Homo sapiens: one gene and its partners. The protein of the gene in region 1 interacts with the protein of each later gene in a pairwise test. Each region holds a gene or a part of one and is shown on either strand. Other genes may lie near its edges. The genes, in order: CCDC57, SHISA6, CWF19L2, PRAM1, PTPN7, SPMIP6 and GPBP1.

Region 1 (3,500 bases):
ACCAAAACAGGGAGGGCTGACTGCAGTGAGGAGCCAGGGCACGTGGGCTCTGGAGGGAGCACAAGGAATTCCATTCACACCAAAACAGGGAACGCTGACTGCAGTGAGGAGCCAGGGCACGTGGGCTCCGGAGGGAGCACAAGGAATTCCATTCACACCAAAACAGGGAACGCTGACTGCAGTGAGGAGCCAGGGCACGTGGGCTCTGGAGGGAGCACAAGGGGCTGCTGGGCTGGATGACGCCGCCCCAACGTCTGCAGTAGCCTTGAGCTGTATATTTGCTATGAGCGGACTTTTGCAGGGGTCAGATTTCAGTTTATAAGGGGACAGCAAGTACCCCACTGAGACGCGGACTTACCAGTCGTCTCTGTCGAGGTGCGGACGCTGGGCTGAGACTCAGCATGAGGTGAGGACATCTTTAAAGGATCCAACACATCTTCTAGATGCTTTTCCAGAGTTTTAAACTTATGCTTTAGAGTTCGTATTTCTGCTTCAAGGGCCAGAACATAATCTGCCAAAAAAACCTCCAGTGAATATAACACATACACAGCATCCTTTCGCACCTCCCTCCTGTGAGCACCAGCTCAGGGAGCCGATGCCAGCTCATGCCCGCCAGCTTCACTGTCCCTGTCCTCCTCACACTACAGCTTCACCGTAGTTTCCACACTCTCTGTGTGTGTCAGACTGAAAGACCTTCCCTCCCCTCACTGGCCAGAGTGTGCCAGCCAGAGACCAGCACAGTCTCCATGCTCTCCAGGAAGGGCTCAGTGATCAGGAGCAAATGCTCCACCTGCCGCCAGCCCACGTGCCTCTGTGCAGAGGGGCCAAGTCCCATCTCGAGAACGGAAGCTCTGCCTCCATCCCGGCATCTGCCCACCCACAGCCACTCATGGGGTCCCTGGGGGTCGGGAGGCCCTCATCAGCTCTGCCACAGACGCTCCTCTGGAGGAAAGGACTGAGGTCCACCAGCCCCTGCTACCAACCCATTCTGGGACAGCGCGACAGCAAGCCAGCCCTGGTCCAGGTCTAAAACAGGTTTTTAAGTGTGTCAAGCAGGTACCCTCATTTTTTCCTTCCACTTTACAAATATAAAAGCTTTTTGGTATAAAACTTAAGATCCCTTCTCTTGGAGAAAAAGCAGTTTTCATACTTTGAGTTTATTACAGGGGATGTTAACTTATAGGACTCTGAAATGAAGCCTCCTTGAAGCCAGTCAAGACCCATGCTCCCGTCTGTCCTCCTCCCTCCCTCTCCCCCTTCCTCTCCCGCTCTGTCCGTTTCTCCCACTTACTCACCAGGAGTGGCGGCATCTCCCCCAGCCTCTGGGTCAGGCTGGTTTGCATCTGTGCTCTCTGCCGCTGTCTGGATGGGAGGAGGAATCTGATGGCTTAGAGCCTCCATTTCTTTCCTCATCTGGGCAATCGCGTTTCGCAAGCTCGTGTTCTGCTCTCGGAGCCGCTGGATCTCACTGGATGGAAAGTCTTTACTTATTTCTTCTTCATGCTGCCTGAGAAGCATCTGTCAAATACAAGGAAAAATGGCTACAAAAAGATGAATGGTTCCCCAGCTTGTCCTGACAGGCTGTGCCTCCGCTCTCCCCGCGCCCCTCTCGGGCCGGTCCCCCGCTTCAGCTTGGGCTGTGGTCCCTCCCCATCCCCAGGCTGTGATGCCCCTCCTTTCTGACAGAAGTGCAAATATGACACTCAAATTCCTGGAGCCTTTCATACTTTTGAGATCCCTAGAGTGTCCAATCCACAGAGGCAGAAAGTGGAATGGGGGTGCTGGGGCTGTGGGCGGGGAGGGGGAGCCAGTGTTTCTTGGGGACAGAGCTTCAGTATGGAAAGATGAGAATGTTCTGGAGAGGGTGGTGTGATGGCTGCACCTCCGTGTGAATGCGCTTCATGCTGCTGAACTGTGTGCACCAAAAAATAGTTAAAGCAGCCAGTTTTGCGTTATGTATACTTTAGTACAATCAAACATCCACTAAATAGGATGAAGAGCAGGTTCAGAGCGCGCAGAAGAAAAGGCAGTGAATATAAACACCTGGCAACAGAAAATACCCAAACTGAAGCTCAGAAGGAAAGGTGCCAAAGAAGAAAAAATGAGCAGAGCTCTGGAGACCATGAACAAGGTGCACAAGGAACCAGGAGCCCAGATGAACGCAAAGACAGGAGACGCGTCTACAACAAGGCCAGACATGTTACAAATGTGCTGAAAGCCACACATCACAGATGACGAAGCAAATGAGCTGAAAGCCGACATCACAGATGACGAAGCTCAGTGAACCCTAAGCAGGATAAACAGAAAGAAAATCATACCAAACAGCACATAATCAAGCTGCTGAAAAATCAGCAACAAAATGGAAACTCTAAAAGCAACCCGAGAAAAGAGACATGTTACCCTAGGGTCAAAGGGCAGGCATAGGGATGACAGACCCCGCAAGGAGCCACCAAGGCGGGAGGACAACGAGGTGAGGTGGCTCCGGTGCAGGAGGAGAGACAGGCCCCGCCCACCCAGTTCCTAGGGAGAGGGAGTGTCCTTCTCTAACCAAAGGTGAGGGGCGCTTCTGCCTCTGACCAGGAGGGACTCACTGCCATGAGTCTTTCCCTGCGGCTGTGAACAACTAGAACACCAGACACATTAGAGGAAACACCTGCTTCCAGACGCCAGCATAGACCCCAGATACGGGAGAGGGAAACAAAGTCCCAGGGTCTGGCCCAACTCAACCTTGAGTCCAGCCAAGATGTGTGCAAAAGGCACAGCTTCCTCTCCTGTGGAGCCACCCTGAGGGACGCAGAGCCTGCTCCCTACTCTGCACTCCATGAACACAAACCTGAAGCAAGATCTGGGCCCTTCCCAGGACGCTCTGACTGCCCGCTGGCTCCTCCGTGCTCCCTGGCAAGGCCAGCTGGCCTGGGCTCCCAGGAGGAGAGCTTCACACGCTGCGCTCAGGGGTGGAGAGGATGCGAACAGAACCTGCACCTCAACTGGCAGTTTAGAAACGGAGACAGTGCGATGCCTAACCCTGTTTTTACTCTAACTCGCTACTTTAAATTTTGCCCTGTTTGTCTCTTTAATCACCTAGCCTTGTTTCTCATGTAAATAAGACTCTCTCTAGCTGGGAAAGCCGGACAAACTCCAACTGACCCCTTAATTTACAAGACACTAAGGGCTCCTTACCCAACCCCCTTCCGCAAGGAGTTGACCTGTGTAAGCAGATCCTCAGCATTTCAAAGGAGCCCAATTAACTGATAAGGTACTGGCACCAACAACGTCTGAAGTTCCCAGGATTCTTCTCAAAGAGATAACAACATAAAGCCTTGAGTTCGTGTCCGGCATAGCATCTATGTCTAACTATAATGAAGGATTTAGAGCCCTGCACCTGGTACCGTTGCTTTTTGTAACCATTTGTCTTTTAAATTGTTTATCGCTCTGTAACCATTTGCTTCTTTTGATTCTTGCATGTTTTTACTTCTGTAGAATTATTGCCTTTGAGTTCC
Region 2 (3,500 bases), about 71 Mb from region 1:
ACCAGTCCCAGGGCATGGGAAGGTAGGTCTTTGCTTTCTTAAGTAATCTGAGTATCACTGACTCCATTACATTCAGGAAGGTGAGACCCAACTGTTCTACTGGACTTGAGAGAGAGAAGGGCACCAGCAATGTACTAGCTGTGTGACCTTGGGCAAGTTACTAAGCCTCTCTGAATCGGTTTCCTCATCTACAACATGGGCCCCTACACTCAGACGGGATGATGGGAGGATGCAGCGAGATAATGCAGGTTAGGTGCAAGCTGGATGCTGGTACAGAGTAAGCCCTCGAGACCCGGCACTCTTATGAGTATCTCTCTACCATCCTCTCCACTTCCTTGAGTCTTCATCTCACCGAGATCTCCAGTTCTCTCCAACTCTGGCTTGTGGGCTTGCATGAGTGATGGGGTTGTGTAAGCTCCTGGGACACAGAGCTCCCACTGTCCTGACACGTGAGCAGAGTTAAGAGGGACTCCCCAGGCTCACAGCAAGACTGACTCCTCCAGAATGCCCAACAATGGCCTTTAGAGGGTCATCAGGACCAGAGGCTCTGCCCCGGCCTATGCATGGGGGCAGTACAAATGCCCAGCCCTTTACCAACCCCTAAATCCTGACTGAGATGAAGGAATGCCATTCTACCCAGGTAGCACAGCCATGGCTTCCCTGCCTGCAGACACTGAGTCTGGTAACCCTTGTCACCTGCCTTTACACTCAGCCTGCCCCACCCTCGCTCCATTTCGGTGATCAATTCATCCACTGAATGGACATTTGGGGGTGGAGCGAGTGGTGATAAATGCACATTAGGAATTGATCAGCAGTGCTCACTGGCAGCCTTATCTTCCTGGGCTTGCAAATATTTCTACATCATCTAAGGCAGTCTGGCCCAGCTGGTGACCCCGTCTGAATGCAGAAGTACAGAGGCGACAGCCCTGGGATAGAAAGAAGGGAAGGCACAGTGAACACTCTGGCTCTGACCCCGAGCCTCACTGCATACATCCCGTAAAACTGGGTCCTTTTACCCTCAGTATCAAACTAGGAAGCTAAATTAAGCTAACTGTCTACTATCTCATGCAGAAATATGGGACGTGCACTTTTTCACCCTTTCTGAGCAGTTCCATGTGAAATGCTTGCTGCAGACTCAACTCCTTTTTCTCCCTCTCTCTTAGGACCTCCACCACCTGCCTGACACACGGATAAAGCATAAAACTGATTTTCTTAAGGCCAATAATTGTCGTTCCTCATGAGGAGTGTCCTCTTCAAAATGATCATCGTGGATTGCCAGGCACTCCTGTGCAGAGCTGCCATTCACTCCTTTCTGAAATGCCTCTTCTGGGCTCCTGCCTTCAGAGACAGCTGACACGGCTCCTAGGAGAGCAAGTCTCATTACTGGAGGCACTCTTGATTTCTGATCACCTATCTCATTCATCAGACTCAGCCCCATGACTTACCATTGCTTACAAGAATCAAATCAACCCTAGGAAAATTAAAATATGTTACCCTTATATAAAGTCAAAATGACATGCCATGGGCTCTCAATGTACTTTCAAGAGAGGGACCGTGGAAACATTTTCTGCAGAAAAATCAGCATGCGGCCTCCCAAGGTGACTGCTTGGAAGGGTGACACATTAAGGTATGTACAACCAGGTTCTTTCAAAGGAAGTATCAAGCACATTACAGGGAAAACCCCCAAACTGCATGCCACAGAGGTTATTTTCACATAATGATTAAGCCCAGATTTCCAGCTTGATTAGCCTGCAGTATCTGGGCCCAGAGCTGAGAAAGGGCAAAACTGGCGTCTATGAATGAGCTTCCGTGGCTTGCAGAGCTATATTCTATGCAGGGGGCCAACCCAGAAGATAACCCTGAAATCACACACACATATACACACGCACACACACGTCCACACACACGCACGCGCACACACACACACACGGCCACTGGATGGCGGGAGGTCTCTGGCCTCTCACAGAGCTGAACTGCATTGATCCGGTAGGTCTCAGCATTCAGCATTTCCACTCATCTCTGGGAGAGAGAGAGAAAGCATTCACAGTCTGAATTTTTTTTTTTTTTTTTTTTTTGAGACGGAGTCTCGCTCTGTTGCCCAGGCTGGAGTGCAGTGGCGCGATCTCGGCTCACTGCAAGCTCCACCTCCCAGGTTCACGCCATTCTCCTGCCTCAGTCTCCCAAGTAGCTGGGACTACAGGCGCCGCCACCAAGCCCGGCTAATTTTTTGTATTTTTAGTAGAGACGAGGTTTCACCGTGTTAGCCGGGATGGTCTCGATCTCCTGACCTCGTGATCTGCCCGCCTCGGCCTCCCAAAGTGCTGGGATTACAGGCGTGAGCCACTGTGCCTGGCCCTGAATTTTTAATGACAGATTTCTGCCCACAGTTTCATTCGGTGACTTTTTGCCCCAGTCCACAACTCTTTGGTTGTGCTGTTATTTTCCTTCTTCAATAGTCCGCATTACTCAGACCTTATAAAAGGATTATGCTTAGATTAGGTTATTGCCCTTAAGAAAGGAACGTGAAAAAACTGCAAAAGGAGCGGGGAAGATCGACAGAAATCATTTTAGTGGAGACATTCAGTGGAAACAGTGAACCAGGAGGGGTACAGAAACGTAGGAAAGAAAGAGAAAGGAGAAGGCTGTAACTCACATCTCTAAGGATCCCAAAGTTATTTGGTGATGACTAACCAAGGAACGTGCAAAGAGTAAAGAAGCAGAATATATTTTCATTGAATGAGATGAGTCTGAGCGCTAGAACACAGGCGCCCTGGCTTAACCTCCAAGCTCACCCACCCACTAGCTGGGCTCCTTGGCACTGTGACCTAGCCTCTCTGAATTTCAGTTGCCTCACTTGTAAAACTAGGTAACGAGATTAAATGAATTGCCTGCAATGAAAACGTTATAATTCTGTAATAGATGACAAAAGAATAGAATGTACTACCCTGCTTTTTCAGAAGTTCTGGTTTCACTTCGAGAGATTAAAAAAAATAGAGTTAGCAATGTATCCTGAATTGTTTTAAAATTAAGCTTGCTCAAGGGTTGAGTTCAAGGGACTGAGACCCTCTGAGGATTCACTGGTAACCCTTGTACCCAGGCCTCTTATCTCTCTACAATATCTGCAAAGAAAGACACTAGAGGCCAGGCTCCGTGTCTCACACCTGTAATCCCAGCACTTTGGGAGGCAGAGGTGGGCAGAGCATGAGGTCAGGAGATCGAGACCATTCTGGCTAACATGGTGAAACGCTGTCTCTACTAAAAATACAAAAAATTAGCCAGGTGTGGTGGCGGGCGCCTGTAGTCCTAGCTACTTGGGAGGCTGAGGCAGGAGAATAGCTCAAACCAGGGAGGCGGAAGTTGCAGTGAGCAGACATTGTGCCACTGCACTCCAGCTTGGGCCACCAAGCAAGACTCCATCTCAAAAAAAAAAAAAAAAAGAAAGACGCCAAAGAGGTGAGGTCATAAACGTAACTCAGGAAGAAATAATGGGGTGGAGTTTC
Region 3 (3,500 bases), on another chromosome or scaffold:
GCAATCAGATAAATGCGAACAAAAACAATGAAATACCATTTCTCACCCATTTATTAGGCTGATAAAAAAATATATAAAGTTTGACAATTACAGATACTGAGTACTGGAAAAGAAACATATGCTCCTGGTACAGTATAAATTGGAATTCCAGATTACCAGGATTGTGTGATGCCCCTAGGAAAGTCATCAGCTTCAGCACTTCCTTACTTCTCTGGATTCATGCTTTTGCCTCATTTTTTGGTCTCTACAGATTTCCTATTGCTTCCTTACTAGCAAAGTGACAACAATAAAGTATAAAATAAGCATGCTTATTTTACATTATATCCACCAGAATTTCTAGATGTCTTGAAATGGAAGTATTTTCATGGTGTCTAATTCAGTATGTACACTGAAACAAAAATTGAGTGAGTTCACTTTCAATTTAATGATATTAAACTCAATATTCACTCAACTTTATATATGCCCTAGATTTATAAATCTAGTAAACCTTTAAACTCACTTCCTATAGGAAATTTATTTTTCTTAAACTGATGTATTTCATAGTTGTTCTCACTAATTGTATTAAATACTATAAAAAATAAAATGGTATTTTACAAGTTAAACTGCATTTATATAAATGTCTTGTAAGTTTATTAAAGGTAAATTAGAAAGTTAAAGCATTTCAAATATTCTCTTACCTGTTCAAGCGCTTGGTTTTTCTCTTGCTCTATTTTCCTCATAGTTTCCTTTTCAGCTTTGAGTGATGATGATGACACAGTTTTAACAGACATAAAATCAACAGTCATCCACTCATCCCTCTGTTAAAAAAAAAGACATAAAATCAACAGTCATCCACTCATCATTTCAATCTGAACTGATTAGAATTTAATAAACACTTGGTAATAAGAGCAGGGACTTTGGAGGCAATCAAACCTGAAACAAGTCCTACATGGCTATATAACTTGAAGCAAGCTTCTAAATCTCTCTATACTTTAGTCTCTCCTCTATAAAATGGTATAAAATCCCTACCTTTCAGGATTGTTTTAAAGAGTAAACAAGATAACAGATCTAAAGCATCCAGCCCAAAGCCTGGCACACAACAAGCAATCAAACTTAGTTCCTGTTCACCTTTCTTCCTTCACCTGTGGCTAACAGTGGACAAATTACATTCTTCCTGAGGCAGATGAACTATAGCCCAAAATTTTTGAACTATTCAACTGTTAAGTATTGTTAAGAAAATTAAGGCATGAGGTGAAGGGAAAAAAAACTGTGATGGAACTCCACTCACTATAGAAGGGTCAGACAGAGATACAGTATAAGGCTTTAGGGACATAAGGGGAAAGTGCCACTTCTTATCAACAATCAAAAGCATGAAAGCCTCTAAGGAACGAGAATAGAGAGGAACACTCACTTTCTCACAGTAGAAGGGGAAGGGGGTTCTAAACATTCAGCAAACAGCAGTACTGCCAAAATTATTCCTAAAGTATATTGTTTTCAAAGTCTAATTGTTCTCCTGAAGAAATTTTAATCATCTTTCATTTTCATATTCATTTATTCTCAAAAGTTGATACTTTTTTCTTTAAAACCAAGTGATAGGCCAGGTGCAGTGGCTCACGTCTCTAATTCTAGCACTTTGGGAGGCTGAGGTGGAAGGATTGCTCAAGCTCAGGAGTTTGAGACCCAGTCTAGGCAACATAGGGAGACCCCAACTCTACACAAAATAAAAAAATTAGCCAGGCGTGGTGGGCACACAACTGTGGTCCCAGCTACCAGGGAGGTCGAGGTGGGAGGATTACTCGAGCTTGGGAGGTCGAGGGTGCAGAGAGCTCTGATTGTGCCACTGCGGCCCAGCCTGGGCAACAGAGTGAGACCCTGTCTCTAAAATGAATGAAAGAGAGAAAGAGAGAGAGAGAGAGAAAGAGAAAGAAAGAAAGGAAGGAAGGAAGGAAGGAAGGAAGGAAGGAAGGAAGGAAGGAAGGAAGGAAGGAAGGGAGGGAGGGAGGGAGGGAGGGAGGGGGAGGGAGGGAGAGAGGGACAGAGAGGGAGGGAGGGATAGAGAGGGAAGGAGGGAGGGAGGGAGGAAGGAAGGAAGGAAGGAAGAAAGCAAGGAAGGAAAATCAAGTGGCTTGCTTACCTTGATAATTTGGGTGTCATCTTTTCCTGACTTTTCATCTTTCACTTTCCAGGCTTTTTCCTTGTCAGGAGTCTGGGATGGAACAGCCTCAACCCACTCATCTTCAGAGCTCTAAGAACATTTAGCATATAAGTGAAATTGTCAAATTTGCATACTTTGATATAAAAATTCTGTGCTGTTAAGTGGTAGAAATTCAACATCGTAGAAAAAAATTCTTACACTGTATTTCCCCTTTACAAAATGGCAATGAAATTTTAAAGAGCTGGGTGTGGTGGCTCACACCTGTAATCTCAGCACTTTGGGAGGCTGAGGCAGGCATATTACTTGAGGTCAGGAGTACAAGACCAGCCTGGCAAACATGGTGAAACACCATCTCTACTAAAAATACAAAAAAGTTAGCCAAGCGTGGTGGCGCATGCCTGTAATCCCAGCTGCTCAGGAGGCTAAGGCAGGAGAATCGCTTGTACCCAGGAGGCAGAGGTTGCAGTGAGCTAAGATCACACCACTGCACTCCAACCTGGGCCACAGAGACTCCGTCTCAAAAAAAAAAATTTTTTTAAAGAAAAAACATATAAACCCACTAGTTTGAGTTAAGCCCACCAAACACAACCAAATTATTTTTATTTTCTCATCCATTTATTATCAAGCCAAGAGAAGGCAAAAAAACAAAAATGGGAACTGCCAAGTAGAGACCTCACTTCAGCACAGAGCTTCAGTGACTACCAACGTCAAGTAGTTACTCACATCTCTGCTTCACTAGAACAGGGGAAACACCACCCAGGTAAACGAATTTGCTGTTTGCCCCTAAGTTTCACATTTTGAGATTTCCCTTGATCTAAAACTGCAGATAACATTATCTTCTTCAACACCCTCCTGAAGCTTTATACCAATTCCCATATTCTCAGCAAATGATGTCTTCTTTTACCTCATCAAGAAAACTAGGGCCACCTTATCCTCCTACCCACCGCCCAAAACATTTATGGCTGTGCCTATCCTTATTTCCAGTTAACTCCTCCTATTTAAGGCAGATCTTGCTCTAAAGATTTTGATAACTCTTTCTGTTCCTCCAGGACCTTGCTCCATCAATTATCTTCTCCTCTCACGGCATTAACCAAAGATCCCTAATGGCCTAGAAACAATTTCAAGCATTTCCCACCCTTTTTTTTTTTTTTTTAAGGAGGGAAGGGGGACCTTCCTTGACCCCGTATATTCCTCCTCTAGCAGGAATTAATCTTCCGGCTTCCATTCTCAGATGAACTTCTTGAAAGAGTAGTCTACATGCACCGCCTTCACACTCTCACTTTCATACATTTTCTCAAAACTCTACAATACATCTACTGTCCCCATTAATCTACTGAAACTTCTCCAAACTCACCAGTGGCTTCCA
Region 4 (3,500 bases), on another chromosome or scaffold:
CCCAGCCTGATTTACTTAGACCTGTTGTGTTCAAGGTAGCTGAGGGGATGTCCAGGCAGAACTTGGGCCTGAAACTCAGGGGGAGGTGTGGCCTGCAGGCAGGTGTGGCAGTGGCAGGGGAGGGAGGCTGCCAAAGGTTTCTTAGAAGTTTGTGCTGGGTGAATAGGGAGCAGGCCCGCACCTCCTGCCCAGCTCCACAGTTAATGCCTTCATGAAAACACAAGCAGCTTCCAGGCAAGCACCTTGCCTGCCTGTCCCTAAATCTGTACCCTCCACTCCCTGCATGTCCCTAAATCTGTCCTTAAATCCGTACCCTCCACTCCAAAGTTAATGCCTTCATGAAAACACAAGCAGCTTCCAGGGAAGCACCTTGCCTGCCTGTCCCTAAATCTGTACGCTCCACTCCCTGCATGTCCCTAAATCTGTCCTTAAATCCGTCCTTAAATCCGTACCCTCCACTCCAAAGTTAATGCCTTCATGAAAACACAAGCAGCTTCCAGGCAAGCACCTTGCCTGCCTGTCCCTAAATCCGTACCCTCCACTCCCAAATCCCCACAGGGCAGTAAGGCAATGCACCCCCATTTTACAGATGCACAAGGCTGGCCCGGCGTGGCAGCTCACACCTGTCATCCCAGCAGTTTGGGAGGTCCGGTGGGCGGATCACTTGAGGTCAGGAGTTCCAGACCAGCCTGGCCCGCATGGCAAAAACCCATCTCTACTAAAAATAAAAAAACTAGCTGGGGCCGGGCGTGGTGGCTCACGCCTGTAATCCCAGCACTTTGGGAGGCCGAGGCGGGTGGATCACCTGAGGTCAGGAGTTCGAGACCAGCCTGAACAACATGGAGAAACCCCATCTCTACTAAAAATACAAAAATTCGCCAGGTGTGGTGGTGCGTGCCTGTAGTCCCAGCTACTAGAGAAGCTGAGGCAGGAGAATCGCGTGAACCTGGGAAGGAAGGGTTGCAGTGAGCCAAGATCACGCCATTGGACTCCAGCTTGGGCGACAGAGTGAGACTCAATCTCAAAAAAAAAAATGAGTCGGGCATGGTGGCATGCACCTGTCATCCCAGCTATTCGGAAGGCTGAGGTGGGAGAATTCCTTGAACCCGGGAGGTGGAGGTTGCAGTGAGCTGACATCGCGCCGCTGCACTCCAGCCTGGGTGACAGAGTGAGACTCTGTGTCTGTCTCAGTTGAAAAAAAAAAAAAAGGCCAGGCGCAGTGGCTCACGCCTGTAATCCCAGCACTTTGGGAGGCCAAGGCGGGTGGATTGCCTGATGTCAAGAGTTCAAGACCAGCCTGGCCAACATAGTGAAAACCTGTCTCTACTAAAAATACAAAAAATTAGCTGGGTGTGGTAGCAGGCGCCTGTAATCCCAGCTACTTGGGAGGCTGAGGCAGGAGAATCGCTTGAACCTGGGAGGCAGGGGTTGCAGTAAGCTGAGATCCTGCCATTGCACTCCAGCCTGGGTGACAGAGTGAGACTCCATCTCAAAAAAAAAAAAAGAAAAAAAAATAGGTACGCAAGGTTGAGGCTCTGGGATGGGGCTTGCCCTGGCTTGCACAGCTGGTCCACGAGCTGGATCTGTGGCAGGGCTTTCAGCGGGGGCCAGAGCTTGAGCTTCTAAGGTGCTCCTGCTCTCGCTGACAGCCTCAGAGGGCCTGGGGCAGAGAGGCCCCCTCTGCTTCTCCTGGGCTTTCTCCCTGAGCTTCTTGCAACACCTCCCTGTGAGCACACAGCTTCCTGGTGGGGCCCCTTCTGCTTCCGCTCTAGGGGAGGCTCTGTGGCTTGGGTCTGGGGGCCACCGTTGGGGATGCGGATGGCCAGGAGTGGGGCTGCTGAGCGCCTGGGCTAGTGACAGCCTGCCTCCAACCACTCCCAGAAGCCCTGCTGGAATCCCCCACCTCTTCCGAGGCTAGGAGCATCTGCCTCTCCTCAAACTTCATACAGTCCCCACCCTTGGCCCATTGTTCCTGTCACCAAATAACCTTCTCCCCCTTCCTTGCCAGTCATTTGAGGTTCTGATAGGAAAAAAGAAAAAAGGGGCCGGGCGCGGTGGCTCATGCCTAAAATCCCAGTTCTTTGGGAGGTGGAGGCAGGCGGATCAGTTGAGGTTGGGAGTTCGAGACCAGCCTGGCCAACATGGTGAAACCCCGTCTCTACTAAAAATACAAAAATTAGTTGGACATGGTGTTGCACACCTGTAGTCCCAGCTTCTGGGGAGGCTGAGGTGGGAGGATCGCTTGAATCCAGGAGATGGAGGCTGCAATGAGCCGAGATTGCACCTCTGCACTCCAGCCTGGGCAACAGAACGAGACCCTGTCTCAAGAAAAAAAGAAAAAAAAAAAGGTCCCACTTCCCTGGATCTCCCGCTTCTCAGGAGTGGCGTGGGCTTCTCACTGTGGGTGCAGCTTCTCAAAGGCAGCTTAGGTCTCTTGGGGCCAGGACTCTGGACTCCCCTTTCCCACTGTCTGCCTTACTTGGAGCAGTGGCAGCTCCACTGCAGAGGTTCCTGGAAGGCAGGGGGCTCCTCTGCAGGTGGGGAGAGCCCAGCCTTTCCCAGGGATCTGAGCTGGCCATGCGGGGAAGGCGGGCAGAGGCCTGCTCTGGGTCAGCTGTGGATGAACCAGGGCTGCCTGCATGGCGGTGCCAAGAGGTGCTCTAATGTGGCGGGTTTGCAGGGACCCTGGAGTGCCAAGGTCAGGTTCGCTCCTGGTGGAGTGACTGCTCACGGCCAGGGAAGCCTCTGAGAGGCAGGAGCAGCTGGAGGGGCTGTGTGTTCCAGGTGAGACTGTGGATGGCCATGCCTGGTATCTGGCGGGCACGATTCAGGTGCTGCTCCTTGGGCTGCTTGGAGGGACTACAGGCCTGAAATGTCCGGCGGGATACTTTGAGCCATTCGGAAAGGACATGCTGGGGCTCTGGGTTCTGGATCTTTCACTCACCAGGGTTCCTGGGGCTCCCACCTGAAGCCAATTCCTTGGCCAGCAGGGCTCTGACTTGGGAGCCTGGTCATTTGCCAGGAAGTGGCACAGGGAGACTGGCACCATGGGAGACCCCTCAGTCCAGAGTCTCATCATCAGTCACCAGTCCAGGACGCTTACCCTAGCAGCATCTTTTAAAAATTATTTTTATTTACTATTTTGAGACAGGGTCCTGGTCTGTCGCCCAGGCTGGAGTGCAGCGGCGCCATCTTGACTCACTGCAACCTCCAGCTCCCAGGTTCCGGCGATTCTCCTGCCTCAGCCTCCTGAGTAGCTGGCATTATGGGCGCCCACCACCACACCCGTCTAATTTTTGTATTTTTAGTAGAGACAGGGTTTCACCATGTTGGCCAGGCTGCTGTCAAACTCCTGACCTCAAGTGATCTGCCCGACTTGGCCTCCCAAAGTGCTGGGATGACAGGCATGAGCCACCATGCCTGGCCATGATATTTTACTGTCAACTATCATTGCCCTCCTGTGCAATGGAACACCCAATTTCTTCTTCCTAACTGTAACT
Region 5 (4,087 bases), on another chromosome or scaffold:
GAGTGCAGTGGCATGATAGCTCACTGCACCCTCCACCTCCAGGGTTCAAACAATTCTTCTGCCTCAGCCTCCCGAATAGCTGACTACAGGTGTGTGCTACCACGTCCGGCTAATTTTTTGTATTTTTAGTAGAGACAGCGTTTCACTGTGTTAGCTGGATCTCCTGACCTCGTGATCCGCCTGCCTCGGCCTCCCAAAGTGCTGGGATTACAGGCATGAGCCACCACGCCAGGCCAGCAATACATTTCTGTTGTTTAGAAGCCACATGGTTTACGGTAGTGTGAATTGTTACAGCTGCCTGGGTAGGCTATGAGGGTCCACCCTGTCTCACTTCCTAAATTGACTTTGGTTTCACCTTACTTTATGTCCTTGGAAGTGCTAGAAAAGTGCATATCCCAAGGGCAAAGATTTGCAGCCTGCCTGTCCCTGGTCTGCAGTCTTTCTCTCTTGCTACAAAGAGGCCCCAGAGGGCCAAGAAGAAGATGGAAAGAAGGAATGAGTCAGTCATCCAAGAAGTCTTTATTTTCCCACTTGGTTACTGTTCTGGAGCTTGTACCCTCTGAGCTCTGAGATGGGGTTGGGGGGACAGTGCCAGGGAGGGCCTGTGGGGCTGTGCAGTTGCTTCCCTCTGGGCTGGCTCTGAGCCCAGGGCAGGATCAGGCACTTGAGAGCCCCCCACCGAGCCTCATTGGCATAGACAGTCGTGCCTCTCACAGGGCTCAGGGGAGGTGGAGGTGTGGGCAAGTCCATCCCCAAGGCTGTAAGGAAGGAGCAGCTCCTCCATAAGGCCAAGCAGAAGCATTAGGGAAATCATCCTCAGTTTTAGCACTGCGTGTTCTTCAGGAGAGAAGTCCTGAGTGAGGAGGCCCAGCTGTTCTCCAGATCCAACTCCTCGGGGGTTTCCACAGAGAGCTGGTATCAAGGCAGCTGTCAGGGGCGGCGTGCCTGGTGATGCGGCATCTTACCTTCATCCCCATCTCAGAATGGGCAGCCAGTCTCAGATTCAAGGAGGAGGAATCCTGAGGTGTGGCGTTCAGTCCTGAGGTAGACCTGAGGTCCCCTGGAAATTGTGTTGATGCTGAGATGGATGAGGGGTGCTCATTCTCTCAGGTAGACAGTGAGGAGTCCTGGTTCAGCCGAGCCTCCATGTCTGCATGGATGGTTATGACCCTGATTGTTTTTGGAAACAGCCAAGCTCTCTAGGTGTACTCAGCAAATGCAAGGTATAGTGGGTCCTGCATACCCAGGGTATTATTTGAGCCATGGAAGCAAAACAGAGACTGCTTAGCCTCCCTAAGAGTAGTTGGTGGGAGTGGCCAGCAACCATGGAGGCAGGAGCAGCTCCTCTTTGCCTCTGAGTAGTCCCCACATGTTCCCTCTTCCAGAGATTTCAACTGCCAGGCCTGGTCACCTCTGTAGCCTACTCTTATGACACATGGGTGGAGGCAAGGGTAACCAGAGTCCTTGTTCTTTCTTTTGATTGGGGTCATCCAGCCCTTCCGATGTGTGGTCAGGGAGCAGAGTCACTGATAGGATGTTGAGACTTGGAGATCAGGACCAGACTTTTCCCCATTCTTGCATCTGGCCTGTGCTTGGGCAGGACCTCGGGTGAAGGATGATCTTGGAATCACCCTTTTGTCAGCCCCAGGAAGGAGTGGCTGGAGTGGCTTCTAGAAACTTCTCTCATTACTTTTCCCTCATGGCAGCTAAGCACTTATGTTCATGTTATAGAACAGGAAACTGAAGCTCACAAAGAGTGTCTCAGAGAACACCAGGACACCTGGGCTTCTTTCTTTGTCTGTCATAAATGCCAGCTCCTGTCTTTAAGTTCAGAGAGACATTGGAGGTTCCCCTTACTGTCCATCTGGGGCCAACAGAGGAAGCAGAGGAGTGGCCAGTGTTGAAGACCTGGAATCCGGCCCCTTGTCCTTACTGCTGCTGCTTCCTGTGACTGCAAGCACCACTAAGGAGGCACTCCTTCCCCACACCAACCCAAGGGGTACCCCCAGATCACTCGGCCCACTTTCCCCAGACCCACCTTCCCAGGCTTGAGGGAGGTAGGCACCTGGGCCACCGGAGGGTGGCAGGGGTCAGGGGCTGGGTTCCTCAGGCAGCTGGCCTGCATACAGGGCCAAAGTGTGGTGCAGGAACTGGTACTGCTCTGCCGTCTGGATCATCCCCCCTCTGCAAGGAGAAACACACAGACCATGAGTGAAGGAGGGTCAGGGTGCTGGCTGAATGGCTCCAGTCAAACATCCCTGTGGTCCTACTGGGAAAGTCCTGACTTTCTCAAAGAACATGCCAACTCCTTTGCCTATATTCATCTTTTCACTTTTTTTTTTTTTTTTTTTTTTTTGTGAGACAGAGTCTCACTCTGATAGCCAGGCTGGAGAGCAGTGGTATGATCTCAGCTCACTGCAACCTCTGCCTCCCAGGTTCAAGTGATTCTCCTGCCTCAATCTCCTGAGTAGCTAGGACTACAAGTGCCTGCCACCTTGCCCAGCTAATTTTTGTATTTTTAGTAGAAACAGGGTTTCACCATGTTGCCAGGGTGGTCTTGAACTCCTGACCTCAAGTGATTGGCCCATCTTGGCCTCCCAAACTGCTTGGATTGCAGACATGAGCCACCATGCCCCACCACCTATATTCATCTTTTCTACTTTCTACTCCTCATTGCTGCCCCTCAGATCTGCTGTGAGAGAAGTCCTCTGCCCCTTACACGTGCTGAGGGGTGATGCCCCATGTTGACACTTGGTCTTCCTTGATCCACTCAGCTCCTGGGACAAAACCAGATCTCTGAAGCCTTGGGTCGGGCCAGGAATACTCCTGAGCCTCAAGTTTCCTTCTTTCTAATAATCTTAAAAAGTAAAAATAATGATTCCATACATTTGTATAGTAGTTTCCATTTCCAAAACATTTTCATATAAGTTAACTCATTTCTTACAACAGTTTTCTGGGGGAAGGAGCCATTATCTCTGTCTAGATAAAGAAGAAGTGGGGGCTGGGCACAGTGGCTTAAGCCTGTAATCCCAGCACTTTGCAAAGCCAAGTGGGCATTGTTGAGCCCAGGAGTTCGAGACTAGTCTGGGCAACATAGTGAGACCCCCATCTCTATTATTAAAAAAAGAAGAAAGAAAAAAAAAGAAATGGGGGCTCAGAGAAATCTAGTGACATCTCAGTGAGACAGATGTCAGAATCTGAACACCGGCTCTGCCTCCACCCAGTGATCTTCTTTGCACTACTTGTTGCTGCCTCATATCATGTTTAATTCCAGGCATCCAAGCCAACATTCCAGACAGATATTCTTTTTTTTGTTTTTTTTTTTTTTTTTTTTTGAGTCAGAGTCTTGCTCTGTCACCCAGGCTGCAGTGCGATGGCACAATCTCGGCTCACTGCAATCTCCACCTCCTGGGTTCAAGCAATTGTCCTGCCTCAGCCTCCTGAGTAGCTGGGATCACAGGGGCCCGCACCAGGCCTGGCTAATTTTTGTATTTTTAGTAGAGACAGGGTTTACACCATGTTGGCCAGGCTGGTCTCGAACTCCTGGGCTCAGGTGATCCACCCGCCTCAGCCTCCCAAAGTGCTGGGATTACAGGTGTGAGCCACCGCACCCGGCCATCCAGATAGATATTTTTTCCTGGTTGTTAGTTGTAAAATAAACAGCTCTAAGCAGAAAGGGTTTCTTCCTTTCTTGCAGGAGTGCTTGATGGTGATGGGCCTAGCAGAACTCTGGGGCCCAGAGGCACTGATGCCATCCGTTAACGTTGTTGGCCTTGTTTACACCCACAGACCCACCTGTCTAGCCGCAGTTGGCACACAATACCCAGAATGTCCACTTCTCCTCGGGCTTTCAGCTGTTGACAGCCAATTCGCGTGGCGATGAAGCAGCCCGTCCGGCCAATCCCTGCACTGGAGATAGCCAGGGAGGGGACAGGGAGGTCATGGGAGACCAGGGAATATGAGAGCCAGGCCCCAAACTATGGAGAAAGAAATGGGACCTGCAGGTGCTATATTTTGGGGATAGGGCTCTGGAGATGGAGGCAGGTAGCAGTACTCTGCTTTCCAGTCCCCTTGGGGGCCCTGCTGG
Region 6 (4,008 bases), on another chromosome or scaffold:
GCTGGAGTAAAGTGGTGTGATCAAGGCTCACTGCAGCCTCAACCTCCTGGGCTCAAGTGATTCTATCTCAGCCTCCCGAGTAGCTGGGACTATGGGCACATGCCACTGCACCTGGCTAATCTTTGTATTTTTGGTAGAGACAGGATTTCACCATGATGCCCAGGCTGGTCTTGAACTCGTAGGCTCAAGCAATCTTCCTGTCTGCTTCAACCTCCCAAAGTGCTTGGATTACTGGCCTGAGACACCATGCCTGGCTTTTCCTTCATTCTTAATACCACTGCTATCTGACTTTCACTCCTCGCCATTCATTGAAGCTGTCTGGCTAAGTTACCAAGAGTTACTACATCCGAGAGATTTCTCTGTCACTAACACTTGACACTGATCTTTGTCTAATAATGCTGTCTTTATTGGTTTATCTTTGATTTTCCTCCTAGTTCTCTGGCAATAATTCTCTGTCTTCTTTTATGGCTTTTTTTCCTTTACCTACCCTTAAATATTTATATTCTCCAAAGTTATGTCCTTGGCCATTTTCTCTCTCTTCTTTGGCAATTTCATCTCTTCCTATGACTTCACCCACCATTTATATGATGATGACTTCAAGATCTCTATCTATAACCCAGACCTCTTTCCTTTGCTTCAGATAAGTATATCTAACTACTTGCCAAACATCTTTTCCTGGATATCCTCAAATATTTTTGTTCTCAAATGAACTCCAAATCTCTAATCTGTTATTCCAAACCTCAGTTGATAGCATTAGCATTCCTCCAGCTGCCACAGCCAAAAACTCAAGGGTCACCCTAATCTCTCACCTTACCATCCATATGGTGACCAAAATCTGTTCATCTACTTTTTAAAATTCCCTTCTATTGAGTATGGAGTCAGGCACTCTCATATTTTGCTTGTGGAAATGTAAATTGTTACAACCCTTACTTATTATGGCAATTTGAGGTATATAGCAAAAGTTTTAAAAATGTGTATATCTTTTCTCCTAACAATTTCATGTCTAGTAATTTATCCTAAGGGAATAATTGGAAATGTGTACAAAGATACATGTATAAGAATGATTATACTAGCAAAATTTTATAAAGTACCTAAATTTTCAATAAGATTCCTTAAATACACCATTTTGTAATAAATTTTATTTATTTTTATAATAAACAATATTTGCTTCCTGAAAGGGCATACGATAATATATTAACAATGGTAATTTTAGGTAGTAGGATTTTAGACCTTTTTTCTTTGTGCTTCTCTGAGTTATCTGCATTTTCTACATTCAGCGTATATTTATTTTGGAGTTAGACAAAATAAATTATTTTAAAAATTCTCTCCTATTCAACGAATTCCTTTTTTCATTGTGACAATCTCCTTATCTCCCACCTACATCCTCCTTCCTCATCTGTTCACCCCTCGCTGGCCTTCCTGCCCTCAACCCCAGCCCCTGCAATTCCCTGACACTGTGGCCAGAGTGGCCTAACTCACAATTGAACCATGACTCTCCCTCCCAGGTTCAAAAACCTGGAGCCTTATGTCCACGCTCCACAACATAGCCAGAGAGGCCCTTCTTGGTCTGCAGACTCCTCTCTCACCCAAGGACTAAACTCTCCTGCTCTAACAGTTTCAGTTTCTGGTAGGTCCCTGCCCACAGGCTGCCTTTTCTCCTGACTGTCTTCTGCTGGAAGCCTCCTCCTCCTGGATCCCTCAGTAGGTCTGCCCTTCAGGTTGGGCAGCGCTCTCCCCTTTCTGGCTCTCCACCTCTGCTGGTGCATGTTCCACATCGGGCAACTCTACTTTGTTCACTTGTTTGCTGTGAGCTCCTCAAAGGCAAGGGCTGGCCCTTCCCTTTTGTATCCTGGGTTGCCTACAGATGAAGATACTCAGCAAAGTTGGATGGTACACACAGATAAATTCTCTTAGGCAGAGTCACAGTTAGACTCACAGATTTCCTCCCACCTGGCCACCAATCTTCAAGCACAGACACAAGTAAACTGTGATACATATAGATAAAGGCATGCATATAGGACAGTTTCCGGCCTATTCCACAGGCAGCCTCAGGGCCTTTGCACTTTGTGATCACTTGTCTGGAACTTTCAGCTCTTCTATTCTTTCAGGTCTTCATGTGGCTAGTTCTATCTCATCTTTCCAGTCTCAGTTTATTGTCACCTTGAGAGAGGGTTTTCCATGACCTAAGTAGCCCTCCCTTTCCATTTCCACTTCCACTACTCTGTTTATTTCCTTTACAGTATTTTTGAAGAATTTATAAAACTCATGTTTATTTCTTATTATCTGCCTGTTCCTACCTCCTACCCTAATGTAATTCCATGAAGGCAGGATTTTGTGCTGTTTTACATACCATTGTAAATTCTGTGCCTAGGTAAATGAATAAAACACACACATACACAAAGCTACAAATCATTACAAACATACATTGCCAGGCATCCAGACTGGCCATACACTCTGGCCTGCCCCTCCCCACCAATCTCCCACTTACCGGAGTCAGAAACTTGTTGGCTTCCCAGGCACACAGGGGTGGGTCCTTATAGACCTCCTTGATGGAGGTGGGAGCCCTGTAGGAGTCACTGTAGGTACTGATAGGGGTCCTGGTCTTACGGGAGAACAGGAACATGGTGTGGTCTTGGAGATGCCGTGGTGGGCTCTACCTGTCAAGGGCTCCTGCTGGACATCAGTGACCACCCTTCCCCTAGACAGGCCACACCTCCAGCCTGGCAGGTGCCCTTAGCTGCTATAATCCCCTCCTGCAGAGGATCTCTCAGCTTCCTTCCCCAACAGCCTTCCTGCTCCCACCCCACACTGATGCCCCCTCCAGGATGGGCACTGCCCATTGTGATATCACCTGGCTCAGCCCCATCCCTGGGAAGGTGAGGAGGTCTAATTCCCTCCCTGCTCCTGACCCCCTCCTGCCTCAAGCCTATCAAAAGAGCCCAATTTCTAAGAGTTCAGAGGGCCTCTGGAGATCTTCTAGGTCAGGTTTCTCACTGTTGAAGAGAAACAGAGGTTCGGAGGGGTTGTGACTCACCCAGGGTCATGCAGCAGGTCAGTGGCATGCCTGGGAACCCACAGGTGGAGGTGGAGTAACATGTGTGCCCAGAGGACCAGTTCTGTCTGCTTCCCAGCCCATCTGCCCCTTGCCCACACCCCAGGGAGGGAGCTGAGGCTGGCTTGTTTGATGCTTTTAATATCATTATTTGTGTTACACGATACACAACCAAGGATGATGGTCAATACTGCAATGAAAATGTTAAAAAAAATATTATACACGGCTCATGTCTTCCACACACCTTCCTGGAAATAAATTAGTGAGCACGGAGAAACCTGGCTGGGTGGCAGCCACAGCTGAGAGAGGAGGGAGTGTTAAGGCAGTATCTACAAGGGGAAGGGTGGCAGGAGGGCAAGCTAAGGCCTAGATTCTTCCCTCCAACCTCCCAGACAGGGAAGGAGGGAGCCACACCCCTCCCTAGACACAGAAGCTGCCACTGCCAGCTTCCTGCCTCTCTCTGCCACACATGCACTGCCTCAGTTGGAAGCCCTTGCCTGCCAGGGAACTAGTATGTCCTGTGGGGGGGGAGATTTTCCCTGGTGTCTCAGGGCCACAGAGATTGAACAATGGGCCCGAGTCACACTGCAAGTCAGCAGCAAAGGCAGCAGTCTAAATGAGCCCCCAAAAAGAGGAGGTACCCATGTTCTAGAAAGGTGAGCCAAGGAGCCCCGGGGTGGTGGTGGTGGTAGTGGGAGGGCTGGCTCTGGGGTCCAGATGATGGGGGCACAGGGGTTGGGGGGATGTTGATCTGGGTGGGAGAGGTGGGTTCAGATGGGGGCCAGTATGGGCCTTGTGGGTCCTGCAGGTACCTTCTCTGTCCTTGCCTCCCTTTGTTTGGCATTTTCTCATCATCTAACTTGGGTCCCTGCACTAGAGGAGGTAGGAATGGGTTGGCGGAGTGGGGGGTGGTGAGCTGTACCCCAATATTTTGGAGCTGGCAGTTCCTGGGTATG
Region 7 (3,500 bases), on another chromosome or scaffold:
TAAGACTCCATCAAAAAAAGAAAAGGAAAGGGAAAGGGAAAGAGAAAGAAAAAGGAAAAAGGAAAAGGAAAGGAAAGGAAAATAGAGCTCTATAAATCAATACAAATAAGGACAACCTAATGGGGAAAACATGAGCAAAAAGCCAGTTCTCAAAAATTAAAGAGCCACAAATCACATGAAAACATAGCCAGGTTCTCTTGTAATCAAAATGCAAGATTAGAACAAAGCTGGCACCTCTTGCCCATTGGCCAATATATAATGACAGTAAGGGTTGAGAAGACAGACAACTCCTTTTTTTTTTTTTTTTTTTTTTTTTTTTTTTTTTTTTGAGATGGAGTCTTGTTCTGTCGCCCAGGCTGGGGTGCAGTGGCACGATCTTGGCTCACTGCAACCTTCACCTCCTGGGTTCCAGCGATTCTCCTGCCTCAGCCTCGTGAGCAGCTGGGATTACAGGCACCCACCACCACAACCGGTTAATTTTTATATTTTTAGTAGAAACGGGGTTTGATCATTATTGGCCAGGCTGGTCTTCAACTCCTGACTTCAAGTGATCCACCTGCCTTGGCCTCCCAAAGTGCTGGGATTATAGGAGTGAGCCACTGCACTCAGCCCAGACAATTATTCATTACTGGGTTAGAAAACATACACATACATATATGCTTGCTTACTTCTCTCAGTAGGGAGGGAAATGCACATGTATATCTATACTTATATTTGTCATCTTTTAAGTCTTTATGGTTAGTTTTTTTTTTTCAGTCTTGCATGTATTTCAATAGATTTATCCTAGCACCTTATAGCATTTTAAAAATTTTTTTGTATTATGCCCCAGAACTGAGCAGATGCCATTTATACTGCAAATATTTTTCTACAGCTTATTTTTTTTAATTTCCTTAAAAAAATTTCCCCCGCTGAAATCTGAGTAAAATAAAGAATGGAGGGGATCTTTTTCCCCCTTAGAGACAGATCTATATGCCCAAGCCAGACTTGAACTCCTGGCCTCAAGTGATGCTCCTGCCTCAGCCTCCTGAGCAGCCGGGACTACAGGCATGCACCACTGCACCCAGCTTTGAGATACAGATATAGATGCAGACTTTTTTTTTTTTTGAGACAGAGTCTCGCTCTGTCACCCAGGCTGGAGTGCAATGGTGCAATCTCAGCTCACTGCAACCTCCGTCTCCCAGGTTCAAATGATTCTCCTGCCTCAGCCTCCCAAGTAGCTGGGACTACAGGTGGCCACCACCACACCTGGCTAATTTTTGTACTTTCAGTAGAGATGGGGTTTCACCATATTGGCCAGGCTGGTCTCGAACTCCTGACCTTGTGATCTGCCCGCCTTGGGCTCTCAAAGTGCTGAGATTACACGTGTAAGCCACCACGCCCAGCTAGCTTTGATATTCTAAAAAGACTATATAGGTGGTTTTAATGAAGTATTTAAACATATAAAGAAGTAATTAAACAGGGTACTTGTTACTATTTTAAATATTTTTTAAAGCCTTAAGTCTTTGTTGCACTTACAATTCTATCTTGTATTAGTCTTTTATCTAGCAACTTTATTTCTAGTAACCTTAATTCATACTTTGTAGCATGTCTGTTGGGATTTTTTTATACGGACAGTTACTGTTCATAAATAATACCAGTTTTCTATCTTGCCCTTTAGTCCTGTTACCTGTTATTTCTTACTCATATTTTACTATGCTGGCTATATGTCAGAGTCTTTCAAGAGTCTGGGATGTTACCATCTGTGCAAGCTAACAAGCTAGCCTGGATACTGTTTCATGGATGCTGGCAAAAGACATGAGACAAAGACTTTATTACTCATGGTACAGCAAGCAGCATAAGCGTGATGTTGGCACTGGTTCTGTACAGCCCCCTAAGACCTTTGGGGATTGACAGGGAGGGGCCCAGGTGGATGCTGCCCTTGCACTGAGTTTGGCAAATCAACCACATATATAAAGAGCTTGGTCTTTGTCCCTCAATGTTGCTTACTGCAAACAACCAAGAAACGGCCCATGCAAAGTGTAGTCAAGATTTTGCATTCTTGGCATACAAGCAAGAACGTGTAGGGGACTGGGTGCAGTGTCTCATGGCCATAATCCCGGCAATTTGGGAGGCTGAGGCAGGTGGATCACTTGAGGTCAGGAGCTTGAGACTAGCCTGGTCAATACAGTGAAACTCCATCTCTACAAAAATTAGGCCAGGTGTGGTGGCTCATGCCTGTAATCCCAGTACTCTGGGAGGGTGAGGTGGGCAGATCACCTGAGGTCAGGAGTTTGAGACGAGCCTGGCCAAAATGGTGAAACGGCTCACTAAATACACTAAATTCACTAAAAGTACAAAAATTAGCTGGGTATGGTGGTGGGTGCCTGTAATCCCAGCTATTCAGGAGGCTGAGGTAGGAGAACTGCTTGAACCTGGGAGGTGGAGGTTGCGGTCAGCCAAGATTGCACCACTGCACTCCAGCCTGAGCAACAGAGCGAGACTCCACCTCCAAAAGTTAAAAAATAATTTCAAAAGAATACAGGCCGGGCACGGTGGCTCACGCCTGTAATCCTAGCACTTTGGGAGGCCAAGGCAGGAGGATCACGAGGTCAGGAGATCGAGATCATCCTGGCTAACATGGTGAAACCCCGTCTCTACTAAAAATACAAAAAATTAGTCAGGCGCGGTGGCGGGCACCTGCAGTCCCAGCTACTTGGGAGACTGAGGCAGGAGAATGGCATGAACTCAGGAGGCGGAGCTTGCAGTGAGCAGAGATCGCACCACTGCACTCTAGCCTGGGCAATAGAGCGAAATTCTGTCTCAAAAAAAAAAAAAAAAAAAAAAAAAAAAGAATACAAAAATTAGCCAGGCTTGGTGGCGCACACCTGTAATCCCAGTGACTTGAAGTATGAGAACTGCCTGAACCCAGCAGGCGGAGGCTGCAGTGAGCTGAGATCGCGCCACTGCACTCCAGCCTGAGTGACAGAGCAAGACTCAATCTCAAAAAAAAAAAAAAAAAAAAAAAAGCAAAAATGCTCAGAGCCCAGGATGAATTGCCTCTCTCAATGATCTACCCATCAGCCCTATACATTCTTGGCTGAATTTGAATTTTCCCATTATTATTCCACTGTTAGTAACTCATATTAATCTTCCTGACAGAGACTAGAACAAAATTCATTTAACTGGTCTTATACAGCATTTAATTAAGTCTATTATCAACATCTCAAGTGAGGTCAGGACCCAGCCAACTGAATAAACCCTGGAAGGAGGAACGCTGGTGGAGGTTGGGAACCACCAATAAGTAATTTTGCCAGGATATGGTCTAAGGCCATGATTATCCATTACAGTTCATTAACAGGAATTTAAACCGACCTGACTGTTGGTGTCTTTCATTAACAATTACAAGGGCAACAAATGGGCCAAAAGTTACCCCTCATTGTCAATAGAGAGATGTCCTGTATCTCATTCTCTCACATAAAAACCAACCACCCCAAGGGACACAGGTCACTCCAAGATCTGTT

What was found.
Region 2: the proteins of CCDC57 (region 1) and SHISA6 interact in binary tests that used the Homo sapiens proteins (3 or more experiments, as listed by UniProt).
Region 3: the proteins of CCDC57 (region 1) and CWF19L2 interact in binary tests that used the Homo sapiens proteins (3 or more experiments, as listed by UniProt).
Region 4: the proteins of CCDC57 (region 1) and PRAM1 interact in binary tests that used the Homo sapiens proteins (3 or more experiments, as listed by UniProt).
Region 5: the proteins of CCDC57 (region 1) and PTPN7 interact in binary tests that used the Homo sapiens proteins (3 or more experiments, as listed by UniProt).
Region 6: the proteins of CCDC57 (region 1) and SPMIP6 interact in binary tests that used the Homo sapiens proteins (3 or more experiments, as listed by UniProt).
Region 7: the proteins of CCDC57 (region 1) and GPBP1 interact in binary tests that used the Homo sapiens proteins (3 or more experiments, as listed by UniProt).

The regions. Positions count from the first base shown.
Region 1 is NC_000017.11:82,171,343-82,174,842, forward strand, and holds part of CCDC57 (coiled-coil domain-containing protein 57), read right to left. Parts: intron 1,519-3,500; coding exon 1,296-1,518; intron 512-1,295; coding exon 359-511; intron 1-358. UniProt on the Homo sapiens protein: Pleiotropic regulator of centriole duplication, mitosis, and ciliogenesis. Critical interface between centrosome and microtubule-mediated cellular processes. Centriole duplication protein required for recruitment of CEP63, CEP152, and PLK4 to the centrosome.
Region 2 is NC_000017.11:11,247,713-11,251,212, reverse strand, and holds part of SHISA6 (protein shisa-6 isoform 1 precursor), read right to left. Parts: intron 1-3,500. UniProt on the Homo sapiens protein: Involved in maintenance of high-frequency synaptic transmission at hippocampal CA3-CA1 synapses.
Region 3 is NC_000011.10:107,440,826-107,444,325, forward strand, and holds part of CWF19L2 (CWF19-like protein 2), read right to left. Parts: intron 2,225-3,500; coding exon 2,114-2,224; intron 798-2,113; coding exon 678-797; intron 1-677.
Region 4 is NC_000019.10:8,492,641-8,496,140, reverse strand, and holds part of PRAM1 (PML-RARA-regulated adapter molecule 1), read left to right. Parts: intron 1-3,500. UniProt on the Homo sapiens protein: May be involved in myeloid differentiation. May be involved in integrin signaling in neutrophils. Binds to PtdIns(4)P.
Region 5 is NC_000001.11:202,146,516-202,150,602, forward strand, and holds the end of PTPN7 (tyrosine-protein phosphatase non-receptor type 7), read right to left. Parts: intron 3,910-4,087; coding exon 3,796-3,909; intron 2,858-3,795; coding exon of another isoform or gene 2,720-2,857; intron 2,185-2,719; coding exon 2,091-2,184; 3' UTR 501-2,090; downstream 1-500. UniProt on the Homo sapiens protein: Protein phosphatase that acts preferentially on tyrosine-phosphorylated MAPK1. Plays a role in the regulation of T and B-lymphocyte development and signal transduction.
Region 6 is NC_000009.12:34,395,011-34,399,018, forward strand, and holds the start of SPMIP6 (sperm microtubule inner protein 6), read right to left. Parts: upstream 2,801-4,008; 5' UTR 2,624-2,800; coding exon 2,489-2,623; intron 1,325-2,488; exon of another isoform or gene 1-1,324. UniProt on the Homo sapiens protein: May participate in intramanchette transport and midpiece formation of the sperm tail. May play a potential role in somatic cell proliferation.
Region 7 is NC_000005.10:57,226,059-57,229,558, reverse strand, and holds part of GPBP1 (vasculin), read right to left. Parts: intron 1-3,500. UniProt on the Homo sapiens protein: Functions as a GC-rich promoter-specific transactivating transcription factor.